2 separate regions of the Homo sapiens genome follow, and region 1 is linked to region 2. The links come from fine-mapping of genetic effects on gene expression. A gene starts in region 2. The other region holds a variant in brackets. All regions are shown on one strand. Distances are from middle to middle.

Region 1 (2,906 bases), 35 kb before region 2:
TCCTCTTGCATCAGCCTCCCAAAGTGCTGGTATTATAGGCGTGAGTCACCACACCTGGCTAAAAACTACTTTATGGTGATAAAAGATAAAGCGGTTACCTAGAAAGGGGGTAGGGTGGGATTGACTAGAAAAGGCCACCTAGAGATATTCTGGGGATTTCCATGTTCAAGATTGTGTTTAGGATGGTGGTTACAAGTGAGTATATTCAAAATTCAGTGAATTGAATGCTTAAGAATTGTGCATTTTGGCCAGGCACGGTGGCTCACGCCTGTAATCCCAGCACTTTGGGAGGCCAAGGTGGGCGGATCACCTGAGGTCGGGAGTTCGAGACCAGCCTGACCAACATGGAGAAAACCCGTCTCTATTAAAAATACAAAATTAGCTGGGCGTGGTGACGCATGCCTATAATCCCAGCTACTCAGGAGGCTGAGGCAGGAGAATCACTTGAACCCAGGAGGCGGAGGTTGTGGTGAGCCAAGATCGCACCCTTGCACTCCAGCCTGGGCAACAAGAGTGAAACTCTGTCTCATAAATAAATAAATAAATAAATAAATAAATAAATAAATAAATAAAATAAAGACTATTCTAGTCGAGTGCGGTGGCTCACGCCTGTAATCCCAGCACTTTGAGAGGCTGAGGTGGGCGGATTACCTGAGGGTGGGAGTTTGAGACTGGGCGGATTACCTGAGGGTGGGAGTTTGAGACGAGCCTGACCAACATGGAGAAATCCCATCTCTACTAAAAATACAAAATTAGCCAGGCATGGTGGCACATGTCTGTAATCCCAGCTACTCGGGAGGCTGAGGCAGGACAATCACTTGAACCCCGGAGGCAGAGGTTGCAGTGAGCTGAGATCGCCCCATTGCACTCCAGCCTGGGCAACAAGAGCGAAACTGTGTCTCAAAAACAAAAAAGACTATTCCAACTGGCCCACTATCCTCAATGGATACCTCAATGGCGAGTTTGTGGGGGGCTGTGACATTCTTATGCATATGTACTAGAATGGGTACCTGGTGAAAGAACTGAAAAAGCTGGGGCTCTGTTCTGCCCTTTTAGATTAAAAGAAAGACCAAGACTCCAAGTGAGGGCGCCTGGGCCTCAATGAACAGAGAGGGGGCCGTTCATGTCAGAGACTCCCTGCCAGAAAAGCCTTTCCAATTTTGGTTTTCATTACTGAGACAACAACTGCTTGCACTGATCATTTCAGTTCATGAGCAGTCTAGTGATTTTAGTTTGTCTGGTGTTTGGGTTAAGAATATTTTATTGTGAACTTAATTACAACCACTGCACTGTAATAATTAATGCTATATTATGATATTGTTGCAAACAAAATTCATTCTTATATTGTCATTTATTCTTTGCCCAATTCAGGAGTTAAAGTAGGGGCTTTGAAATCATTATTATTCATGACCCCTCTTGCAGACTGTGTCAGTCTGCAAGGACAGTATCTTCCTCCAAATTTTGTGTAGCTTCTTTTGTTATGGAAAATGGACTAAAAAGAAACTGTGATAACTGGGGCGTTGTTTTTTTAAAATAAACTGCCAACCACAGGGTAAAAAAAGAAAATGGTGC[A/AT]TTTTTTTTTTTTTTTTTGAGACAGAGTCTCGCTCTGTCGCCCAGGCTGGAGTACAGTCTCGTGACCTCGGCTCACTGCAACCTCTGCCTCCTGGGTTCAAGCAATTCTCATGCCTATGCCTCAGCCACCAGAGTAGCTGGGACTACAAGCGAGCACCACCAGGCCTAGCTAATTTTTGTATTTTTAGTAGAGACAGGGTTTCACCATGTTGACCAGGCTGATCTTGAACTCCTGGCCTCAAGAGATCCGCCCGCCTCGGCTTCCCAAAGTGCTAGGATTACAGGCATGAACCACCATACTGGGCCAAGAATTGTGCGTTTTATTGTTAAGTAAATTATGCCAATAATAATAATAAAATGCTATAACCAAATTATAATAAAGACCTGTGGAGGGGAAAACTCGTCTCTACTAAAAACACAAAATTAGCTGGGTATGGTGGCGCATATCTGTAATCCCAGCTACTCGGGAGGCTGAGGCAGGAGAATTGCTTGAACCCGGGAGGCAGAGGCTGCGGTGAGCTGAGATCACGCCATTGCACTCCAGCCTGGGCAACAAGAGCAAAACTCCGTCTCAAAAATAAATAAATGAATGAATGAATGTAGGAGGGCTGGGTATAGTAGAGAAGGCAGAAGGGAAGAAAAGGAGGTGAGAGACAGGCAAGGAATGCAGGAAATGCCTGAAAGAAGTTCTTCAGAGGCATGAAAAATCAGAAAACTGGATTCATTTCTGACTCAATCTTCTCTTCCACAGATTAAGGAATACATTTTCCAAAAATCAAACTTAAGAAGTAAAAACTCTGCCATGAAAATATTTAAAATGTATTATGCATCAAACTATACACTATACTAGAGGGAAGTCATATACCTACTGTGTAGTGCTGAATTTTGTTTCAGTAAGCATGTGTAATTTCATCTTTTTAACCAATTAAATTTTGGTTTTTTTGAGACTGAGTCTCTCTCTGTCACCCAGGCTGGAGTGCAGTGGCACTATCTCAGCTCACTGCAATATCTGCCTCCTGGGTTCAGGCAATTTTCCTGCCTCAGCCTCCCAAGTAGCTGGGACTACAGGTGTGCACCACCACACCTGGCTAATTTTTTTATTTTTGGTAGACATGGGGTTTCACCATGCTGGGCAGGCTGGTCTCAAACTCCTGACCTCAGGTGATCCGCTGCCTTGGCCTCCTAAAGTGCTGGGATTACAGGCATGAGCCACCGTGCCTGGCCAACCAATTAAATTTGTTAAATCCAGTATAAGAGATCAGTGTTGATAAAAACAGAAACCTGAGGCCGGGCGCAGTGGCTCACGCCTGTAATCCCAGCACTTTGGGAGGCCG
Region 2 (2,906 bases):
GGGTGGAGTGGGGAAAGAATTATGCCTTTCTCTAGGAGGAGCTTGAAGTGCCAAAAACAAGCTGGGCTGGGCAGCCAGGGTGCCTGGGTTCAATTTCAAATTGAATCAAGAAATGATTTTGAGTGGCTGCTCCATGCCAGGCCCCGTTGTGAACCTGATATTGTCCCTGGTCCTTCTGGCTTCAAAGCCCACTCTAAGGTAACCCAGGGAGGGAGCTGGGTGAGCTCCACAGACAGCTCCACACCCACCCTCCTTTGCACCCTCCACCTCCAGCTTCAAGCCAGGCCTCACACCCTCTCTTTCATTCTTCCCCATTTCAGCAGCTTCTCCCCTTGCCCCCCACTTTGAACCTGTTTCTCTTTTGCACAGGGACAACAAGAGAATCACAAAGACTAGGGGCAGAGGTTGTTTCCAGCCCGACATCATCCCCTGCGGCCCAGCAAGGCTGCAGTGGGAACAGAGCCCATGACCTTGTCCTTGGGTGTTCTCCAGCCAGGAAACCACCCGCCTCAAGGGCCATCTTGAGACCCTTCTGGGGCCATTTCCCTGTCTCCTTTCATTCAGACCTAAGGATAATCATTTCCCCTTCAGCCACTCCTCTCCTGACCCTGTCGCCTCACCCTCCCTCTCCTGTTCCCAGTCACCTGCCCGCTGTTTCATCCACTCCTCCTCGGTTTCCAGTCTCTCCATCCTCCCCCTCACTGCTACCTGGGTACTCACATTCTCATCCCCTCAGCCACCCCATCCCCAGAAAGTTACACAAGGGAGCCGCCCTGCCTTCTTCACTGAGCCACATTTCCTGTCTTGCCCACTTACAGTTCTCTTGAATGGTGACCCCAGGCCACTGCCCCTTCCCCAGGAGCACCGGAAACTGCTTCTGCCCTTCAGGCTGGATCGGGCTGCAGATGCCCAGTGCCTCCCCACCCACCCTGCAGAAGCTGAGCCGGCCTCCTTACCCTCCTGGCCTGAGTGCTGCAGGTGCTCCTGCAAGTCGCACCCAAAAACCCGCTCCTTTGCGCTGCCCTTCTTCTTTCCTTTCTGCCGAGACTTCATGGCCAGAGCCCCAGGGCACTGGCCCGGTCACCTCTATCCCCCAAGACCTGTGCCCTACCAGTCCCCCATGGGATCCCAGCCAGCTGCTGGGCTTGGCCCGGCCCCAGGGGGGCAGGGCTCCCAATTGGGGGTGGAGGGTGGCCTGGGCAACGGGCAGCAGCTCCTGCCCCTGGGGCCCCGGCCACACGGAAGTGGCTGTTGAAGAGGAAGCTACCAGGACCCTGGCAAGAAATTGTGTCCTGTGTCTCGTGGCCCAGCCTGGCACTCGCCCTCCTCGCCCCGCTCAGCTTTAGGGGGCAGGAAGCAGTGCAGCTCCTTAACCCACTTCCTGTTAGAGCATCTTTGCAACCACAGGGCCTAGGGTGGGGGAGGTAGCTGACATTCACATCCTCACCCTTTGCTTGGACTTCATTCATTGGTCAGGGGAGGTGATGTCAGAGCCCTGGGGTGGGGTGATGGCGTCTGTGGTGTGAGCAGGTGACCAACTCCCTTAGAGACCAGAATTCTTGGGTCCAAGGTAGAGACCTGGGGCTTGCCTGGGAGCAAGTTGACACAGGGCTGTAAAAAGCACACTCACAAGGGAGGATGCCTGGGTTCTGCCTCTGATGGATCTAGCACCTCAGTCAAATCGCATTACTTCACTGAGCCTCAGTTTCCAAACCTAGGAAAATGAAGGGAGCAGACTAGAGGACCTTTAAATCCTCCCACCTCTAAGAGTCTGTAAAACTCATTTAACTTGAGTTTCAGTTTCTTTACCTGTAAAAAAGGGTACACTGCTGCCTATTTCACATAGCTGTTGTTGAGTCTCCAGTACAATAAGGAATTCAGGCTGGGCGCAGTGGCTCACGCCTGTAATCCCAGCACTTTGGGAGGCTGAGGCGGGTGAATCACCTGAGGTCAGGAGTTCGAGACCAGCTTGGCCAACATGGTGAAACCCTGTCTCTACTAAAAATACAAAAACTAACTGAGCATGGTGACGGGTGCCTGTAATCCCAGCTATACGGGAGGCTGAGGTGAGAGAATCGCTTGAACCTGGGAGTCGGAGGTTGCAGTGAGCTGAGATAGTGCCACTGCACTCCAGCCTGGGTGACAAAGTGAGACTTCATCTCAAAAAAAAAAAAAAAAGGAATTTAAAACACTTTGCAAACTAAGGTACTGGCCATCCTCGAAAGGGTTCTTAGCTTCACTTTCCTACCAGGGGACTCTCAGAGATGGCCAAAGGCCTTGTGGAGGCCAATTCTTTCCCTTCCCTCCCAGCTACAGGCATCCTAAGTCTTCCCCTACTTGGGACTACAGGAAGGATGGTACCGAGACAGAGAGTATGTGACTCAGAGCTTACACAGTTCAAGGGGCAAGACAGGAGCCAGACAGAACAAGTTTTGTCTGTTTATTTAAAAACAGAATATCATTTTATGTACAAATATGCACATATTTACATAAAATGTACATGTTAGGATCTTAGATCTTCAGGCTCCACATTCGAAGTCCTAGGCTGGCTGGGGAACGAAGGATGGGAGCCTCTCCCTTAGGCCAGAAATCCAGCAGATTTCAGACTAAGAAGAGTTTGGGTACTAAATCTAGGTATTCTGGCTGAGTGTATCTGGGTGGGCCAGCTAAAAATAAACCTCATTGAACTCCAGCCCCAACCCAGAGAAACATCCAGAAGAGCCTTGAATTAGTGATCCAAAACCCAGGGGGAAAGGCGACATTCTCACCCCCAGCACCTCCTTCACCTCACCTCAACTCCTACTCTCTCGGTCTATAATCACTGCTCTCTCTCTCCCCAACACCACTATTGAACAGGAGCCCTTGTCACCAGGTCCAAGCAATTCCCTAAGGTATCACAAACAATG

The links. PIP is the estimated chance that this variant, and not a neighbour inherited with it, causes the effect. A credible set is the group of variants that fine-mapping cannot tell apart.
Region 1: its variant is the best candidate, but not a certain one, in a credible set for the expression of ARHGAP30 in whole blood (INTERVAL, PIP 0.84).

Annotation. Positions count from the first base shown.
Region 1 is chr1:161,033,923-161,036,828 of GRCh38, forward strand. It overlaps the pseudogene GLRX5P2. Among named protein-coding and RNA genes, the nearest start is that of TSTD1, 3.6 kb to the right of the region's middle. RefSeq lists enhancers at 1,231-1,737, 1,738-2,243. The variant A/AT (reference allele first, on the strand shown) is at 1,573.
Region 2 is chr1:161,068,572-161,071,477 of GRCh38, forward strand. It overlaps ARHGAP30 (Rho GTPase activating protein 30), which reads right to left and starts at 1,320. Exons shown (of 12, transcript NM_001025598.2): 1 at 957-1,320. The coding sequence starts at 1,053. It overlaps NECTIN4 (nectin cell adhesion molecule 4), which reads right to left. Exons shown (of 9, transcript NM_030916.3): 9 at 2,427-2,906. RefSeq lists an enhancer at 613-1,159 and a silencer at 1,056-1,205.